Linked DNA regions of Homo sapiens. The protein of the gene in region 1 purifies or fractionates together with the protein of each later gene. This does not show direct contact. Each region holds a gene or a part of one and is shown on either strand. Other genes may lie near its edges.

Region 1 (5,180 bases):
AGTCCTCCCTGTCCCATGCCTGCTGGCTCTGACCGTTTCCTCTCATGGGTTTGCTTTACCTGTGGCAGCAGGTTGCTGCTTTCCAGGGATGTGTCCAGTGCCCTGGGTTCTTCCCGGTCATCCTGGGGCTCTGCACAGAGCAGCAGAGCTAGAGCCATGAGACCCACAGACTTGGTGCCTGAGCGCAGCTCCAGGGAAGCCCCAGCCCCTTCCAGGCGGGGAACCTGCTTCCTGCCTTCACTGCCCCCGCAGCACTCACAGACATCTCCCTGGGGTCTGGCTCACTGCCTTATCAGGACCTCTGAGTTTTCTGACTTTCTGTGTAGCTTCTCATTTTCATCAGCACAGCATGGGGTCACGGCCCACAGCTAGGTGGGGTCACGGCCCACAGCTAGGTGGGGACTGTCTGCTGGCTCAGGGCCCAGTGTTTTGCCACTCAGGTTGCAAAATTAGCTAATCCTTCAGTGCCAGCACTCAGAAGTCTGGCAGGTGGGGGAATGAGATGAGAAAGTGGACATTTAAGGTCCAAGTAGAAGCTTGCATCCTTGAGGCTCAGGGATGAGAGGGCACCGCAAGGCACCCAGCCTTACCCCACAAGCAGGAATCCTGCCAGCCGAGCGTGGGTCCCAGTCTATGGAATCGAGTCTCCCAGACAAAAAAGGAGAGGCCCTGGCGGTCCTTGGCCTGGCCCATTTTATTCCCTGGACCCTTAACTGCCTCACCCTGAGCTGGGCACCAAGGTTAGAAGGCAAAAGTGGGGTAGGGGGATGTGGGAAGCAGCATTGTCCTCTGGGCATGTGGCTCAGAGGTATCACAGTGACAAAAGAGCCAGGGCTAGGGCTGGAGGGGCCAGGTGATCTTCCTTAGCCAATCCCAGTCCGTCTGTGTCAGCCCAGCTCTGCCTCGCAGCCCCCTCAGCATGGGTGCCCCCAGAAGTAAGCAGCTCTTGGACCCACGAGCAGGGCTGCGTCGGTTTGTGGTCTAGCTCCCAGGGGCAGGCCAGGCATGGCTCAGTGCAGTCCCTGGGCCAGTGAGAGGCCTCCCCCATGCCTCCCTGCCCTCTGCACTAAGCACTTTCCAGGCAGGCCTGGCCATAGGGCAAGAGCAGGCCTTACAGCAGTGCCACGGTGACCCAAGAGGCAGGGTTGGGGCCTGGACAGGGTTTCCTCTGCTGAGACTGAGACAAGCAGGGCTTGATGCTGGTGGTGGAGCCAGCATCTCACCTGCCAGGCTTCCTTTTGGGCAGGGAGGCTACCTGTGGAATGGCTGAGCCTGGTTCTGCAGGGGAGGAAGGCTGCCAGGAGCTGAGGGGCTAGCACCTGCATTGAGGGGAGTCTGGGTGCATCAGATTGGGGGGCGCCAGAGGCGAGGCTGCCTGGCTCCCTTTCTCAGCAGCTTTGCTTGTGGCAGGGGTGAGAGTGGAGCTGAGTGGGGTCTGGGCTCTGCCCCTGCGCCTCCACTGCAGTGCCTGGGCTCCCCTTGCAGGGCAGACAGTGCCTGGCACTGAGGGGTGCCCCCAGACCCCGCTGGGACTGGATGTGCCGTGGGCAGTGCCTTCCTCCAGCCTCACAACCTTTCTGCTGGGGCTGAAGTTTCTGGGGTCACATGGTCAGAAGGGGCTGAGCTGGTCTTTCACTGCAGGCCCACTCTGAAAGAGAAATCCCATGAAGCCTGTCCTTGCAGAGCCCCTCTGTTTTTGGGGGAACAGGGAGCATTCACAGGGTCTTGGGAACAAAGGCCTGGGCCTCCCCGTTTGAATTTCAGCCCCAGTTCCAGGGCAAGTCCCAGCCACCCAAGCATACTTACCAGTACTGCCCACCACCACCCACTGCCCACCTCTAAGAAGCCCGGCTCTCCTACTCTGCTTCCAGGCTGGGGCCTCACAGGTGGGGCTGTTACCTTCCTCAGGGCTTAGGGAGGGAGGGAGGACATGGACAGGGCCTTCCACCCTGGCTCCTTCACAGGGATGGTAGCTGACCGGTGATGGGTTCATTTGTCACCTTGGACTGTGAGCCACTTCCACTTCTCGCCCCCCAGGCAGGAGCACCCTCACTCCAAGGGCTTGGCCTGGAAAGGCAGGCTCACCTGGGACTCAACGTTCCTTCCCCCGCCGCCACTGTGCCCCCCGTCCCTCCACCCCAGAAGCCCTGACCTCATTTGGGCACCTTGCTGTCCTCTGGGCTTCTCCTCTGCCCAGGTCACCCTGTGGCAGGCCTGGGCCCTCAGGATGTTTCAAAGGCTCCACAGCTCCACCGCTCCACCTGGCTTCACTCCAGCACCCTGTCCCTGGAGCACCTCTGTCCTGTCTGGGCCAACCTGGTCTCCCTGCCCCATGCCCTCCCCTGGCTCTTAGCAACCTGCCCTTTTATTCATGCCATTTGGGGTCACAGATGCCTAGCTGGACACAGCTCCCAGAACTGGCTCCACCCTGGGGCCTTGCCCCTAGTACCCCCTGGCAGGAGCAACCCACCCCATGGTCGAGGTTCCCCTACCCCTGGATCCTGGACTGAAGCCATTTCCTACAGAGAAGCGTTCCCACCCCCTCTCAGGCACAAAAGCCGGTGTCCAGGGACTCAAGACCTGTACCTGGGGTTGCAGGGGCTCCTGCCCTGCTGTATCCCACCAGGAGGGGGCCCCACTGCCCTTCCGGCCCTTAAAACTGGGCTGGGAGAGAAGACGGGGAAGTGTGTGAGACAAAACAAAGCCGGCTTGTTTCCTCCCCTTGGCAGGCTAAGCTCTCCCGGCAGCCCGGGCTCTGGGGCGGAAGGAGAACAGTGTCATCTCTTCCTTTGTTGATAAATTGCCAAAGAGTGGGAACAGGTGGGGTCAGGGGCCAGAGTGCAGGGGAGGGGGCAATGGTGGAGGTGGCGGGGGGAAGCAGAGGGAGGTGGGCTGAGGCCTCGGTGGGGCCAGTGCGACGCTGGCTTAAGGAGCTGGAGGGGTTCCTAATACACATTTAATTCAGTTTCTCTTCCCTAAGAGGCTGCCGGAGTTGGGGCCTCCTCCAGCAGAGACCCTCGGACCCCTGCAGGGCCTGGACTTGGGGTGAACAGGGCTTCAGTCAGCGCAAGTATTCCATTTGCATTTGGTAATTTTTCATGCCACCTATTTATGAATATATAAATCTTTATACCAAATCTATTTTTTAAAACATGGAAAAGTTGCCTTTATGGAAACTTGGCAGAGCCAGAGTGTACACATTCCTAAACCATTAAACAGATTTCTATAACAAGCCACTGCGCCCAGGACTGGTTCTCTGATCTTTGAGCCCAGAGGCGGCCCAGGTGGCCACGTGCCTCAACTAGTCTCCAGGCCCGGGGTGGTAGACAAGCTGCCCCCTGCCAGTCTGCCACCCAGAGCACTGTGAGACCTTCCCTCTGTCCCTAAACCCTTGGGGGACCCCCCTGAGCAAGAAGCAGTTGGTGCCTGAGGGGCAGAGGAAGCTTGGGCTGGGTCCCTTCTCTGGGACACCCCAGGTTCCTCCCATTGGGTTTGTGTTGGAGAGGGCTCTTTGGTGATTGGCAGGGGCACCCTCACCCCGACCTCCCCATGAGGGAAGCGTCACTCTCCTGAGCACACAGGCCTGGATGAGGAATCCCTTGCCCGGGTCTTGTAGCCACATTGATCCCACAGTGGCAGGAACAACCCACCCCATGGTCGAGGTTCCCCCCACCCCTGGATCCTGGGCTGAAGACATTTCCTACAGAGAAGTGTTCTCACCCCCTCTCAGACACAAACGCCAGTGTCCAGGGGCTCAGGGCCTGTGCCTGGGCTTTGGGGGGCTCTGACCTGTTGTTATTCCGAGTTAGGACTTAAGAACACCATGAGGGGCTCTTGCTTCTGTGATGTGACCAGCACAGAGATGTTACCAGGCACACAGTAGATGCTCAGCTTAGAGAAGTGCCTGAATCAGGTCTCTGGCACTGGGAAGCCCATGAAATCCATAGCCTGCCCACCAATATAATCAGGGGTCTATTCCTGGTCACTCAAATAAGGGGTTTTCTGCCGAAAGGGACTCTTAAACAGCAGGGCTGCTGGTTGGTCACCCTGAGGAAGAAGAGGGGGGCCTAGCAGTGCTGCACCACCTTGCCAAGCCTGAGACAAACTGACATGATGGGGCTCATAGCAGCCTGCCGTTGAAACCTAGGTGTGCCCTGACTGTCCTGTGGTTCTGGGCAGGTCACTTCTCCTCTCTGGGCCTTGGTTTCCTCAAACCTGGGATCCTATTCCCTGTCCCATTTGCATCCCGGGGAGCCCTGAAGAGACCCCAGGAGGGGAGTGCTTTATGCACTGAAGGCCTGGAACAGGGCACTGGAGGAGGAAGACCCAGAGCCCTGGCTCTCAAGACAGGCCTGGCTCCAGGCACCTGCCATCCTTCCCAGGGAGAAGGAAGGCCTGATGTCTGAACTCCCTCTTCTCTTCTGAATGCCAGGAAGCACCAGAGTGCGCGTGTGCCCCTTGTAAGTCAAACCCATAACCAGGCCTGTCTGAGCCCGGCCATCCGCACGCTCCCAAGAGGCTCAGACCTGGGTCAGTCTGTCCCTAGGGCCCTCTGAGGCCTCTACCCAAACAACAGGACTGCCCAGACCCCAGAGCAAACAGACAGCACAGGTCCACTCCTTGACTTCAAAGTATGGAAGCTGAGACTGGATCCCAGAGAGTCTTGCTCAAAGCCCCACGATGTTCACTTCTGAGCCCCCACCTGCACGCCCAAGCTGGGTGCTGGGTCCCAGAGGTGAGTCTGCCTTGCTGCCTCCAAGGGCTCCCAAAGCTCCAACCTGGACCCCACTCCTCCCTGCACACATTTGCCGCTGGGATTGGCCAGCCCCGCCCTCAGGGAAGCCAGGAGGCAGGGGGGCCCCTTCCCTGTCCTCACCTTCACCCTGGCTACTCCCATCCCCACCCAGCCCACCCACCTCCTGCCTGGGCCTCTGCCCCAGCCTCTTCCTGACCTGGTCCTGCCTGGGCATCTCCTTGTGGCTGCAGAGAGCATCCTCAAGCAAGACCCCTAGCCACAAGGTCCCGACTCCCTCACTCAAGACCTCTTCCACGGTCCTTGTGGCCCTCGGGCTCCTTAGAGAGGGCCCAGCATTGGCCACTCTCCCCTGACCTGGCCACACACAGCCACACGCTGCTCTGCCACCCCCAGTCTGAGCTGCTCCCCGCAGACCGACCATCTC
Region 2 (4,947 bases), on another chromosome or scaffold:
GTGGTGGTGTTCTCCCCAGAGTACCTACTCAGGATGCTGAAGTAGGAGCATCACTTGAGCCTAGGAGGTTGAAGCTGCAGTAAGACAAGATCATGCCACTGTACTCCAGCCTGGGCAACAGATTAGGACCCAACCCCAAAAAACAAAACATTGGCTTTGGCATCTCATCTTCTACTAAATAAACTGTAATTTCTTAGCAAGATATGGTAAGAATTGTTTAAGATGAGACTCCAGATTGTATTTTTAGCCATGATCCCTTGCTATAGTTCTCCAATACATTATGTTCTACTGCCATTCCAGGTAACTTGCTCTCTTTTTTTTTTCTTTTGAGATAGAGTTTCGCTCTTGTTGCTCAGGCTGGAGTGCAATGGCACAATCTCGGCTCACTGCAACCTCCGTCTCCTAGGTTCAAGTGATTCTCCTGCCTCAGCCTCCCAAGTAGCTGGGATTACAGGCTCCCACCACCATGCCCGGCTAAGTTTTTGTATTTTTAGTAGAGGCAGGGTTTCACTATGTTGGCCAAGCTGGAACACCTGACCTCAGGCGATCCACCCGCCTCGGCCTCCCAAAGTGCTGGGATTACAGGCGTGAGCCACCACGCCCTGCTGCCCCTTGCTCTTATAAGCATCTGTACACCTACCTTTGCTCATGCTGTCCCTTAACCTGGAATGTATGGTCCCCTCCCCAGACCACTCCATCATTCCTTTCATAATGCGGAGAAATCCTCATTATCAGGGCCTGGTTGAAATGCTACTTGTTATAGCAGCTTTGCTGCTTATTCTAAAGTCAGACCAGAATTCAATCTACTTAACTAGGCCAATTGTAAATTGATATTTTTGTTACTCTGCCTTGAATTATAGTTTCCTACAAGTCTATTTGCCCTACTAAATTGTAAGTCCTTTGAGCTGTGTTTAGTATATTTGCATTCCCTGCTGGTAGAACAGAGATGAAAACTTAGTTGCTAGTACATAGTTCTCAATAAATGTTTATTAATTTAAATTGTCTTGTTATGATGGCCTAGAAGAGGTTGCCTTGACTACTTTTTAATCCAGCACTTCCTCTTTTGCACAACTTTTCATTTGATGATCACCTTTAATTCTAGGAATAGAAAACCTTTTTTGTTTGTTTGTTTTTGTTTTTGAGACAGAGTCTTTCTCTGCCACCCTGGCTGGACTGCAGTCGCTCAGTCATAGTTCTATGCAACCTCTAACTCCTGGGTTCAAGTGAATCTCCTGCCTCAGCCTCCTGAGTAGCTAGGACTATAGGTGTGCACCATTATGCCTGGCTAATTTTTCAGTTGTTTTGTAGAGAGGGGGTCATGCTGTGTTGTCCAGGCTGGTCTTGAGGTCCTGGCATCAAGCAATCCTCCTGCCTCACCCTCCCAAAGCTCTGGGGTTACAGGTGTGAGCCACTACATTTTGGCTGGGTGTGATAGCTCATACCTGTAATCCCAATGCTTTGGGAGGCTGAGGCAGGAGGATTACTTTAGGCCAGGGTCTCAATACCAGCCTAGGCCACAATGCAAGACCCCATCTCTACAAAAAATAAAAATACAAGAATTAGCTGGGCATGGTGACACGCTGCTGTAGTCCTAGCTACTTGGGAAGCTGAAGTGGGAGGATTGCTTGAGCCCAAGAATTTGAGGCTGCAGTGAGCTATGACTGTACCACTGTATTCCAGCCTGGGCTGCAGAGTGAGACCCTGTCTCTAAAATAATAATAATAATAAAATAATTTAAATGTTATTGGTATGCCCACATTAATGTGAAAAAATCTGGCAATTTCCAAGAAGACATAACAATCTTTAATATGTATGTACCTAATAACAAAGCAACAAAATGTGTGAGGCAGAAACGGAACTGCAAGGAGAAATGGATGAATACATGATTATAGTTGGAGACTTCAACACCCTCTGTCAGTATTGGACAGATCCAGTAGTTAGAAAATCAGTAAAGACATAGTTGAACTAAACAGCACCTTCAGGCCAGGCACGGTGGCTCATGCCTGTAATCCCAGAACTTTGGGAGGCCGAGGTGGGTGGATCACTTGAGGTCAGGAGTTCGAGACCAGCCTGGCCAACGTGGTGAAACCCGTCTCTACTAAAAATACAAAAATTAGCCGGGTGTGGTAGTGGGCACCTGTAATCCCAGCTACTCAGGAGGCTGAGGCAAGAGAATCGCTTGAACCTGGGAGGTGGAGGTTGCGGTGAGCTGAGATCGCGCCACTGCACTCCAGCCTGGGTGACAGAACAAGACTGCATTTCAAAATAAATAAATAAATAAATAAATAAACAAACAACAGCACCTTCAGTCAACTGAATTTATTTGACATACACCACTTCATCCAATAATCAAAAATACACATTCTTCTCAAGATCACACAGAATGTTCGTCAAGACAGACTACATTATGGGCCATAAAACATACCTTAACAAATTTAAAAGAAGAGAGATCATACAGTGTCTGCTCTCAGACCACAACATAATTAAACTGGAAATAAATAACAAAAGATAATTGGAAAAAAACAAAATACTTGGAGATTAAACAACACACTCTAAAAAACACATGTGGGCCAGGCATGGTGGCTCATGCCTATAATTCCAGCACTTTGGGAGGCCAAGGTGGGCAGATTGCTTGAGCTCAGGAGTTTGAGACAAGCCTGGGCAACATGGTGAAACTCCAACTCTATAAAATACAAAAAAATTAGCAGGGTGATGTGGTACACACCTTCCGCCATGTTGGCCAGGCTGGTCTCAAACTGCTGACCTCAGGTAATCTGCCCACCTCAGCCTCCCAAAGTGCTGGGATTACAGGCATAAGCCACTGCGCCTGGCCACAATTTTTGTTTTATAGAATTATAAGGAATTATATAATTATATATAAAATATGTAATCATAGAATAATCATAAAGTATTATATTTTATAGAATTATAAACAAATGCCCCTCTTTATTGCTGATCATCTTTCTTGTTCTGAGGTCTACTTTATCTGAAACTAAATTAAGCTACTCCAGCTTTCTTTTTTTTTAAACAACTTTATTGAGATATAATTTGCATATCACAATACTGATCCTTTTGAAAAATTTTTTTTTTTTTGAGACGGAGTCTTGCTCTGTCACCCAGGCTGGAGTGCAGAGGTGCGATCTTGGCTCACTGCAACCTCTGTCTCCTGGTTCAAATGATTCTCCGGTCTCAGCCTCCTGAGTAGCTGGGACTACAGGTATGCACCACCGCACCTGGCTAATTTTTTTATTTTTTTAGTAGAGATGGGGTTTCACCATGTTGGCTAGGCTAATCTTGAACTCCTGACCTCAAGTGTTCTGCCTGCCTCAGCCGCCCAAAGTATTGGGTTTACAGGTGTGAGCCACCGTGCCCGGCTGAGAACCCTGTTTTAAAGGCTATTAAGATAAATTTTAAAATTGTCCTTTTGGGACATCTAATCATAAATAACAATGTAGCATTCTTGAATTAATCTACTGTTTTGCAGTAGAAATGGTTCGAATGTATGGGTAATAGTTTTAAAACTTGAATCTTCATTTCACTTGAGACTTCTTTCCACAGGCCATTTTGCAACCTGTGTTGGCAGCAGAAGATTTTACTATCTTTAAAGCAATGATGGTCCAGAAAAACATTGAAATGCAGCTGCAAGCCATTCGAATAATTCAAGAGAGAAATGGTAAAATGTTGAAGTTAGAAATCTAAGTACTAAATGCATTTTTTTTTACAGTTTTGACTATTCTAATATGGTCTTAAATGTAGCTGTCTCATGTACATTTATTTCAAGTTTGAAAGACTTCAGCTGACTTGAGATTTTAGAGTATATGGCTGGGTGCAGTGGCTCACGCCTGTAATCACAGCACTTTGGGAGGCTGAGGCGGGCAGACCATGAGGTCAGGAGATCGAGACCATCCCAGCTAACACAGTGAAACCCCGTCTCTACTAAAAATACAAAAAAATTAGCTGGGCGTGGTGGCGGGCACCTGTAGTCCCAGCTACTTGGGAGGCTGAGGCAGGAGAATGGCGTGAACCCGGGAGGTGGAGCTTGCAGTGAGCTGAGATCGCGCCACTGCACTCCAGCCTGGGTGACAGAGTGAGACCCTGTCTCAAAAAAAAAAAAAGAGTATAAACTTCCTGATTTGTATTTGACATCTCAAAGAAAGGAGACCAGAATTCAATGATACTTTGGATTTCACAGAGTTCAATTTTCTGCCCAGCCATTATGTTTATGAAGTTGAGTATTTTTGAATGGTCATAGTTGTGGTTACTGTTGAGAGGTGTCCATCCTTTTTCTGGCTTAAGATTGTTAGGACCTTTGTAGGAAGCAGTGGTTCTTTTTTTTTTTTTTTTTGAGACGGAGTCTCGCTCTGTTGCTCAGGCTGGAGTGCAGTGGCATGATCTCGGCTTACTGCATGCTCTGCCTTGCGGGTTTACACCATTCTCCTGCCTCAGCCTTCTGAGTAGCTGGGACTACAGGCACCTGCCACCACTCCGGGCTAATTTTTTGTATTTTTAGTAGAGATGGGGTTTCACCATGTTAGCCAGGATGGTCTCGATCTCCTGACCTCGTGATCCGCCCGCCTTGGCCTCCCAACGTGGCCGGAAGCAGTGGTTCTTAAGCTTTAGCAAGCATTGGAAATGGTTGGAGGGCTTGCTGAAGCACATATGGCTGCCTCCCAGTTTCTGATTTAATAGGTCTGGGGTACCGATAATTTGCATTTTTAACAATGATATGGTTTGGCTGTGTCCCCACCCAAATCTCATCTTGAATTCCCACGTGTTGTGGGAGGGACCCAGTGGGAGGTAATTGAATTTTGGGGGCAGGTGTTCCCCATGCTGTTCTTGTGATAGTGAATAAGTCTCATGAGATCTGATGGTTTTGGGAAAGGGGAGTCTTCCTGCACAAGCTCTCTCTTTGCCTGCTGTCATCCATGTAAGACGTGATTGCTCCTG
Region 3 (4,947 bases), on another chromosome or scaffold:
CCCCAAAAGAAACCCTGTACCCTTTAGTCACTCCCAACCCTGGGCAACCACCAATCTACTTTCTGTCTCTGTGGATTTCCCTACTCTGGACATAGCAACAGCATTATTCAATATGTGGTCCTTTCACTCAGCACAATGTTTTCAAGGCTAATCCACGTTGGAGCAAATATCAGGATTTCATTTCTTTTTATTGCTGAGTAATATTCATTGTATGGATATATTACATTTTATTTATCAGTTGATGGACATTTGGGTTGTTTCCACTTTTTGGCTATTATGAATAATTCTGTGAATGTTTGTGTGTAAGTTTCTGTGTAGACATATGTTTTCATTGCTCTTGTGTATGTACTAAGGAGTAGGATTGCTGGGTCCTGTGATTACTCAATGTTTAACCTTTTGAAAGACTGCCAGACAGTTTTCCAAAGTGGGTGCATATTTTATATTCCCAAAAGCAGTAAATGAGGGTTCCGGTTTGTCCACATTATCACCAGCACTTGTTACTGTGTGTCTCTTTGGTTACAGCCATCCTAGTGGGTGTGAAGTGGTATCTCGTTATGGTTTTGATTTGTAATTCCTTGTCGGCTAACTTGTACATATTTCTTAGGCTTTGTAGAAGAAAAATTGCATATTGGATGACATAGCAGTACACGTCTTAGTTCAGGCTGTTATAACAAAGTACCGTAGATTAGTGGCTTATAAACAACAAAACTTTTTTTTCACAGTTCTGGAGGCTGGGTAGTCTGAGATCAAGGTGCTCACAGATCCATTGTCTTGTGAGGGCCAGTTTCTTAATTTGTAGATGACTGTCTTGCTGTGTCTTCGCATGGTGAAGAGCAGAGAAAGAGAGATCCTGTGTCTCCTCTTCTTTTTATAAGGGCATTAATCCCATTCTTGAGGGTTCCACCCTCATGACCTAATTACCCCCCAAAGGCCCCATCTTCAAATATGATCACACTGGGGATTTAGGCTTCAACATATGCATTTTGGGGGGAGTCCAATACCAGTACATGTTATAAGCATGAATATACAGATACTATATTTTAGGTGATTATATTACATATCCCTAAAAGAAACAGTAACAACAGCTAATACTTAAGTGCTGTGTTCCAGGCCCTATGCTGAGTGCTTGACAACACAGATCACTCATTTAAACAATTGTGTATTATTATTAATAGAAGCATAAGTTGACAACATTCCTCTCTAGAAAAAGTTATTCTAGGCATGTGAAGTGAAAGTGGGTTTTTTTTTCGCTTTATGCCCCAGAGTGTCCTTTTGTCTTACAGGTGGTGCTCAGCTTAGAGCCTTATTCATACGCAGTAAGGGACTGCTGAATGAATGAAAATTTAATTGACTGAGTAGTAGTGTAGTTAAATTAATCCATGTGACCAATTTCCTTTCAATTTCCTAATGGCTCTACATAACTATTAGCTCTTACTAAGAAAATTTTCCCTTCTGTCTGTAGAAGTCTTTGGATGAGGATGACCTAGGTCCTAGAAGGGTAGTTGCCCTGGAGAAAGAAGCTGAAGAATGGACCAGACGGGCTGAAGAAGCTGTCGTCTCTATTCAGGATATCACAGTGAATTATTTTAAGGAGACAGTAAAAGCATTAGCAGGTGATAATTTAAAAAATGCTATATGAAGATACATGTAATTGATTATCATTTTATTCAAATACCATTTGAGTCCCTCTTACGCACTAGGTACTATGTTTTCTAGGTGCTGAGAATTCAGTGTCAAGCGTTAAGAGACGTTGTACAGTCTGGTGAAGGGAGAGAAATCTTAATTATCTATTCATTGAAGCACATGGAAAATGGCAGTGACAGTAAATGGCACAAAGAAGAGAGACATGGGCTCTGAGGGTCTGTGAGAGAGAAATTGGGCTTGATCAGGGTGGTGGTCACTGAAGGCCTCTGAGAAGTGGCGCTTGCCCCAATATCTGAAGGGTAAATGGAAGTTGAGAGAAAATAAAAAGTGAGGAGTATTCCGGGCAGAAGGAATAGCACTGCCAAAAGTCCCCTGCCTTGAGGGAAGTTGGCAAATTAGGAGCTTAAAGAAAACCTGCGGGGCTGGATCGCAGAGAGTGCAGGACAGTGTGGTATGAGGGAAAATGCTGGCCAGACAGGCAGGGGTCAGACCATGCAGGGGCTTGTGGGCTGGGTGAAGGACTTTTTTTTAGTCTTAAATAATTGTTGATAAAAACACCAAGTAGGAAACAACTTAACGTCTGTCAGTTTGTTAAGTTATGGTACCTTCATAAAACAGAAAACTACGTAGCTGTTAAGCATGATTCTTGATTTTTTTTTATGAGTGGCAAGAGTTTCTGATACATTGTGCAGAATCAACAAGATAGAAAGCAGAATGATGATCCTGGTTTTGTGGTCAAACTATCCATATGAGCCTGTCTGTCTAGCTAGACATAGAAACAATATGGAAGCAAGTGTGCCAAAATATAAGAAGCAGTTGCCTCAACTAGGTGAGATCATGACTTACTGTCTTTTTAAAAATGGAATACCTAAAATTTTATATCAATGAACATGTATTATTTTTATCATAATAAAAAAGTTAATAAAATTTCTTTTAAAAAGGATATTCTGCAGGTAGTATGGAGGCAATAAAAAAAGGATTAGCTCATGATAAATGTTTCCCTTTTTAATGAGGTGTAATTATATTTTATTTTTATAATCCAACAGGAATGCAGAAAGAAATGGAACAGGATGCGAAGAGATTTGGTCAGGCTGCCTGGGCCACAGCAATTCCCAGGTTGGAAAAACTTCAGCTAATGCTAGCTCGAGAGACTCTGCAACTCATGAGAGCGAAAGAGTTGTGTTTAAATCACAAAAGAGCTGAAATTCAGGGAAAGGTAAGACAAAGATAAACATAACTTTGTTTTAAAAATACACTTTTATTTTTAAAACATTTTGTATAAATAAAGGATACAAGTGCAGTTTTTGTTCCATGGATATATTGTGTAGTGGTGAAGTTTGGGCTTTTAGTGTAATCATCACCTGTATAATGTAATTGTACCTATTAAATATTTCTCATCCCCCCTCCCACCCTCTTACTCTTCTGAGTCTCCAGTGTGTATTATTCCACACTGTGTATACACATTACTTAGCTCCCACTTATAAGTGAGACCATGTGGTAAAGCACACTTTTATTTTTAGATAGCACTTTTCTTTCCAGGCATCGTTAAAGAGCTTCTTTTCTTCGCTTATTCCAACACCATCTTCTGTGGAAGGTTAGACATAAAGTTTTCCTTTGGTTAAGATGTTTCAAAATACCATATTGTAGGTTTCACTTTATAGTAATACCAAGCTCAGTATTGAAATGGGTACTGTACTTGAAAATCAACCCAGCAATGTTTTCACTACAACTTTAAAATAATCAAAGAGATACTTCACTGCATAGTCACTTAAATTTTTTCCTATAATCTTATGACTTTAAAGCAGAAAACACTGTAAACACCTGTCTTAGTTGGCTCAGGCTTCTATAACAAGATTAAATATCACAGATTGGGTGGCTTAAACAACGGACATGTATTTCTCACAGTTCTGGAGGCTGGAAAGTCCAAGATCAAGGTGCCTGCAGATTCACTGTCCGGTGAGGATCCTCTTCCTGTCTGGTAGACAGCTGCCTTCTTAACTGAGTGCTCATATAGCCTTTCTTCTGTGTGTATGTTTAGAAAGAAAGTGATCCCTCTCTTTCTCTTCTAATAAAGGCACTAATCCCATGATGGGGGTGCTATCCTTTTGACATAATCTGAACTTAATTACTTCCAAAGGACCCACCTCCAAATAACATCACACTGGGAGTTAGAGTGTCAACATACGAATTTTTGGGGGGACACCAATATGCAGTACATAATAATACCTCATTGCCATTTATGTTTCTCAGAACCTAAATGTTTTCCTCTGTTTCAAGGATGAGATAAAGTATTTGCATCACTAGATGAAATGAAAAAGTGTTTCTTTCCTATTTGCTTTGTTATATTTAGTACTGAACAAGGAATAGAAAATAGCTAGAATGCTTCTAAAGTTTGTTTTTAATATACTAATTTATTTTAACTTATTTTTCTTTTTTCTATGAAAATAAGATGGAAGATCTTCCAGAACAAGAAAAAAATACAAATGTTGTAGATGAATTAGAAATACAATTTTATGAAATTCAATTAGAACTATATGAAGTTAAATTTGAGATATTAAAAAACGAAGAAATACTGCTTACTACACAGTTGGACTCTCTTAAAAGACTTATAAAAGGTAAAATTTAAGTATATAGATTGCAATGTTTAAATTATAAATTTAAGGAAATACAGACCATATTATCAATTACTTTTTGTAAATTATAACATCTGAAAATTTCCTAAAGTTTTCCTTCAGTGGTTTATTATTCAAATAATATATTCATTGTTAACACATAGCAAAACAAAGAAAGAAAAATGATTATTACCCCAATCCCATCATCTAGAGATGCTTAGTGGTTGGCTGGGCACAGTGGCTCACGCCTATAATCCCAGCACTGTGGGAGGCCGAGGCGGGCAGATCACTTGAGATTAGGAGTTCCAGACCAGTCTGGCCAACATGGTGAAACCCCATCTCTACTAAAAATACAAAAATACTAAACCCTGTCTCTACTAAAAACACAAAGTCCAGTGTGGTGGCACGTGCCTGTAATCCCAGCTGCTTGGGAGGCTGAGGCAGGAGAATGGCTTGAACCTGGGAGGTGGAAGTTTCAGTGAGCCAAGATCGTGCCACTCCACTCTAGCCTGGACAACAGGGCGAGACTCCATCTTGAAAAGGAAAAAAAAAAAAAGATACTTCGTGGTAACAATTTGCTGTATAACTTTGTAGATTTTAAAATATGCTGATATATAAAAATATAAATTTTTAACCAAAATATATAACCAGTTCAGTAACATCTTTTTAAACAATTTTTAATTTTTATGGG
Region 4 (4,947 bases), on another chromosome or scaffold:
CGAACAGAAGGGGCAGCATGGCTGTCAGCTGGGCTGGGGCGCATGGGGATGAGGGGTGCACGGACGGGGGTGGACCAGAGGCAGGAAGCCCAGGGTGAGGAAATGTCCCGAGGGTGGGCAGGCAGGATGGAGTGGGCTCCCACCCAATGCCGACCACGCATGTCTCTGGCCCCCAGACAGAGCTGTGAACCAACCCCGCTCACGGCTAACAAGCCCACCCACCATGGCGAGCCCCACTCTGAGCCCCGACTCCTCATCCCAGGAGGCCCTGTCGGCCCCCACCTGCTCCCCAACCTCTGACTCCGAGAACCTCAGCCCCGATGAGCTGGAGCTGCTGGCCAAGCTCGAAGAGCAGAACCGGTGAGTTGGGGGCTGGGGGATGGGGTGAAATCTTGGGGTGCAGTCTGGGCCCCCACAGGAGTTCCCAGGTGCCCTCACATTCAGAGCCAGGCCCAGTGTGTGCAATGTGACAGCCACCTCCAGATGCTGGATGAGGGACAGACACCTCCTTTCATCCTCCCAACCCTGGCTGAATATATGTGTCCCCACCCTGTTCAGATGAGACTGAAGGTTTGAGAGGTCAAGTGAATCTGTGAATCCGCCGCGGTTAATGGAGCCAGGACTGGAGGAAGAGTCGATTCGGGCCTTCCTGCTTTCTTCCTCTGACCCTACCCCCATTTAAAATGCAGGTTTTAGGCTGGACGTGGTGGCTCACACCACCGAACACTTTGGGAGGCCGAGGCAGACGGATCACTTGAGGTCAGGTGTTTGAGACCAGCCTGGCCAACATGGTGAAATCCTGTCTCTACTAAAAACACAAAAATTAGCTGGGCATGGTGGTGGGTGCCTGTAATCTCAGCTACTTGGGAGCCTGAGGCAGGAGAATCACTTGAACCCGGGAGGCGGACGCTGCAGTGAGCCAAGATCACGCCACTGCACTCCAGTCTGGGCAACAAGAGCAAAACTCCGTCTCAAAAAAAAGGGGGCGCTGAGGGCAGTGGCTCAAGCCTGTAATCCCAGCAGTTTAGGAGGCTGAGGCAGGTGGATCACCTGAGGTCAGGAGTTCGAGACCAGCCCGACCAACATGGTGAAACCCCATATTTACTACAAATATAAAGTTAGCCAGGTGTGGTGGCATGCACCTGTAATCCCAGCTACTCAGGAGGCTGAAGCAGGAGAATTGCTTGAACCAGGAGGCAGAGGTTGCAGTGAGCTGAGATCACACCACTGCACTCCAGCCTGGGCGACAGAGCAAGACTCCATCTCAAAGAAGAAGAAAAAAAAAAGAACAAGAGGGACCTAATCCCTGGTGTCCTCTAAGACCCCCAGGAGGGGGAGGATGGGCTGGGCTCGCCAAGGATCCCTGTCCCCAGGGAGTCACTGGTTCCCCTCTGTCGGCCCTTCCTGCCCAGGCTCCTGGAGGCCGACTCCAAGTCCATGCGCTCCATGAATGGCTCGCGGCGGAACAGTGGCTCCTCGCTAGTGTCCAGCTCCTCGGCCTCCTCCAACCTGAGCCACCTGGAGGAGGACACGTGGATCCTGTGGGGCCGGATCGCCAACGAGTGGGAGGAGTGGCGGCGCAGGAAGGAGAAGCTGCTCAAGGTGGGGGGCGGCCAGGCAGGCAGGGCTGGGCCGACGGCGTGGGCAGGTGGTGCGGTCACTCAGCCACCAGGCAGCGCCAGGGTCTGCGGGGCCCCAGCCTGGGCACAGCGGCAGCAGTGGAGATGTGCAGGCACTTTCAGGGTGTCCTGCCAGAGCACAGGGACAGGAGAGAGTGAGTCAGGGTGGTGCTGGACAGGCCCTGCACCCTCGAGTGCCCATGTGCTTGCTGCCCTGTAGTGCCCATGAAGGATGGGGGTGTGGTGGCTCACGCCTGGAATCTCAGCACTTTGGGCGGCCAAGGTGGGAGGATCGCTTGAGGCCAGGAGTTCGAGGCCAGCCTGGGCAACGTAATGAGACTCCGACTCTATAAAAAGTTTAAAAATTAGCCAGGTAGGCCGGGCGCAGTGGCTCACGCCTGTAATCCCAGTTCGTTGGAAGGTCGAGGCAGGCAGATCACCTAAGGTCAGGAGTTCAAGACCAGCCTGGCCAACATGGCGAAACTCCGACTCTACTAAAAATACAAAAATTAGCTGGGCGTGGTGGCGTGCACCTGTAATCCCAGCTACTTGGGAGGCTGAGGCAGGAGAATCACTTGAACCTGGGAGGCAAGAGGTAGCAGTGAGCCAAGATCACGCCACTGCACTCCGGCGTGGGCAACAGAGTGAGACTCCATCTCAAAAAAAAAAAAAGTTTAAAAATTAGCCAGGCGTGGTGGTGCACAACTGTAGTCCCAGCTACTCAGGAAGCTGAGGCAGGAGGATCGCTTGAGCCCAGGAGTTCAAGGCTGCAGGGAGCTATGATCGCACCACTGCACTCCAGCCTGGGTGACAGAGGGAGACCCTGTCTCTGAAAAAAGGGGGTAAAAAAAGGATTGGGGACCATGAGTTCTGTGCCATGCTTGAGGCCTGGATGAGCCACGCCTGAGGAGCTGGGCTGGGTGGCCACGGGGAGGCTGCGCTGGGACCGAGTCCAGCCCCCGCTTCCCGCTCCCGTGGCCAGGAGCTGATCCGCAAGGGCATCCCCCACCACTTCCGGGCCATCGTGTGGCAGCTTCTGTGCAGCGCCACGGACATGCCCGTCAAGAACCAGTACTCCGAGCTGCTCAAGATGTCCTCGCCGTGCGAGAAGCTGATCCGCAGGGACATCGCCCGCACCTACCCGGAACATGAGTTCTTCAAGGGCCAGGACAGCCTGGGCCAGGAGGTCCTCTTCAACGTCATGAAGGTGAGGCCCAGGGCTCCCCGCTCCCTCGGTCCCAAAGGAAGGAGAAGTTCCCCAGTTCACCGGCTGTGCTGGACGGCGGGACCCTGCTCTCAGGACTTGTTCCCTTCTAGGCATACTCGCTGGTAGACCGGGAGGTGGGCTACTGCCAGGGAAGCGCCTTCATCGTGGGCCTGCTCCTCATGCAGGTAGGTGGCTGGGGGGTGGCTGGGCTCCTGCCAGACAACAGCCCACCCTGGGCTCGGCCCCCAAGAGATGGACAGAAGTGGCGTGTCCTCCACCCAGCGTCTTGCTAGGGGTAGATCCTCCTTCTCCATCCACACCCGTGACCTCTGCCAATCGCCAGGCCAAGGCCCAGTGAGTGGCACCTGTCTGGTTGGGTCCTGTCTGCTGTACCATCCAGGACAGAGACCGGGTTTGGAGGGATAGGCTGTCTCTCTCTGCCACATCTCAGGGTTGGACAGGAACCTCAGGCTGGGGACTTAAGCCATCCAGCGTGGTGTTTATGGGGCTTGGGGGTCTCCTCCAGAGAAATCGGGAGGCTGACAGGGAGAGAGGACGCAGCTGGGACAGGAGGTATCCTAACCAGGGGGATGCTGGCAGTGGCCAGCCCTGGGTTCAGGTCCAGCTCCCCTGTTTCCTGCCGAGTGGCCCTTGGCAGGTGACCTCAGCCTCAGGTCTTCCATCAGTAAAACAGCTTGTGAGGACACAGGGACCAACAGTGTGTCATGAGAGTCTAGGGAGCCAGGTACCGACATGGACATGGGCCCCTGTACCCCAGGGCCCTGATGAGCAGCGAGATGCCCCTCCCCGCTGCGCTGCCCTGAGCCCCCCCACCTGCCCGTCCCCCCTAGATGCCTGAGGAGGAGGCCTTCTGTGTGTTCGTGCGGCTGATGCAGGAGTACCGGCTGCGGGAGCTCTTCAAACCCAGCATGGCCGAGCTCGGGCTCTGCATCTATCAGTTCGAGTACATGCTGCAGGTGAGCAGGGCCGCAGGAGAGCAGGGCTGCAGGAGGGCAGGGCCACAGGTGGGCAGGGCCGCAAGGGAGCAGGATCGCAGAAGGGCAGGGCTGGCACCCTAGACCATACCCGGGCACCTCTTGGACTGAAAATTCCAAGCCTGTGAAATCACACCTGGACGTTCCAACTCCAAAAGGCACTCCTCTTTCCATGCAGCACTGCCCTGAAGGATGCTTGGAGGAACAGGAGAGCCACCACTGAAGGGGGGCTCCCAGGGCTGCTGAGGCAGAGGGGTGGGGCAGGCTCACATCGGACACAGCCACAGCCACCTCCCTGTCTGCTCCAGAGTGTGGTGGAAGGAGGGAGTGTTGTCTGCCTGCCTGATTACTGGAGAGCCGCAGACGTCTGTTTATAAATAGCAGCCCCCGCAGGGCCTGCTCCCGGCTGGCAGGCAGAGCCGCCAAGGCCGTTTGCGAACATACACACACCCGCATGCATACACACACACGCAGACACACACACACACACCGGCCCGCCTCAGCTGCCATGGCAGGTGGGGCTGTGCAGTCATCCCTGGATGTGACAGCCCCACTCCCTGGGCCTGGATCATGGACGGTGCTGTAGCCTTAGGGGGCCTGGTAGTGCCACAAGCAGGAGGCCTGGGCTGCAGAGAAGGCACCACCCCACCTCAGGCTGGGTAGCAGAGCCCTCCCACAGCCAAGCTTGCAAACTCAGGGCGCAGAGAGCCCCTGGCGCTGGGAGGAAGCCCGGGATCCTAACGCCTTCTCCGGCCTCAGTTTCCCCAGCCGTCTGCCACTTTCTGGCTGTCTAGAGTTCAGGCCAATCCAACACAGCTTGCACAAAGCTTTATGCTGGGGTCCAAGGGAGGTACAGTGGCTGGCAGGTCACGTAACAAGGTGGGGGGGGGGCTCCCCCCAGGGCCAGAGGCTGCCACTTGCCCATGCTCCACCTCTGGGTCTCAGGGTGTCTGTGGGGAGTGACCCAACTCCCCCAGCCTCAGACACACCCTCTCAGGCTGTCGTGAGGACCCCATGAGCTGCCACGGGCGCATCACCTACCCAGGGTGGGCCCCCAACACAGGCGGCTACAGATCTTGCCATCCCTGCCTGTCCCCCACCCCGTGCTACTCAAAGCTCGGGGGTG

What was found. Proteins that work in one complex are often made in the same cells at the same time.
Region 2: the proteins of RAB43 (region 1) and CFAP36 fractionate together in Homo sapiens (co-fractionation; one large-scale study listed by BioGRID). This does not show direct contact.
Region 3: the proteins of RAB43 (region 1) and WHAMM purify together in Homo sapiens (affinity purification with mass spectrometry; one large-scale study listed by BioGRID and IntAct). This does not show direct contact.
Region 4: the proteins of RAB43 (region 1) and EVI5L purify together in Homo sapiens (affinity purification with mass spectrometry; one large-scale study listed by BioGRID and IntAct). This does not show direct contact.

What each region holds. Positions count from the first base shown.
Region 1 is NC_000003.12:129,085,625-129,090,804, reverse strand, and holds the end of RAB43 (ras-related protein Rab-43), read left to right. Parts: 3' UTR 1-3,233; downstream 3,234-5,180. UniProt on the Homo sapiens protein: The small GTPases Rab are key regulators of intracellular membrane trafficking, from the formation of transport vesicles to their fusion with membranes.
Region 2 is NC_000002.12:55,525,320-55,530,266, forward strand, and holds part of CFAP36 (cilia- and flagella-associated protein 36), read left to right. Parts: intron 1-3,558; coding exon 3,559-3,673; intron 3,674-4,118; exon of another isoform or gene 4,119-4,947. UniProt on the Homo sapiens protein: May act as an effector for ARL3.
Region 3 is NC_000015.10:82,815,230-82,820,176, forward strand, and holds part of WHAMM (WASP homolog-associated protein with actin, membranes and microtubules), read left to right. Parts: intron 1-1,462; coding exon 1,463-1,613; intron 1,614-1,649; exon of another isoform or gene 1,650-2,358; coding exon of another isoform or gene 2,359-2,473; intron 2,474-2,690; coding exon 2,691-2,860; intron 2,861-4,093; coding exon 4,094-4,259; intron 4,260-4,947. UniProt on the Homo sapiens protein: Acts as a nucleation-promoting factor (NPF) that stimulates Arp2/3-mediated actin polymerization both at the Golgi apparatus and along tubular membranes. Its activity in membrane tubulation requires F-actin and interaction with microtubules.
Region 4 is NC_000019.10:7,846,320-7,851,266, forward strand, and holds part of EVI5L (EVI5-like protein), read left to right. Parts: intron 1-176; 5' UTR 177-223; coding exon 224-360; intron 361-1,412; coding exon 1,413-1,602; intron 1,603-2,601; coding exon 2,602-2,826; intron 2,827-2,936; coding exon 2,937-3,011; intron 3,012-3,677; coding exon 3,678-3,803; intron 3,804-4,947. UniProt on the Homo sapiens protein: Functions as a GTPase-activating protein (GAP) with a broad specificity.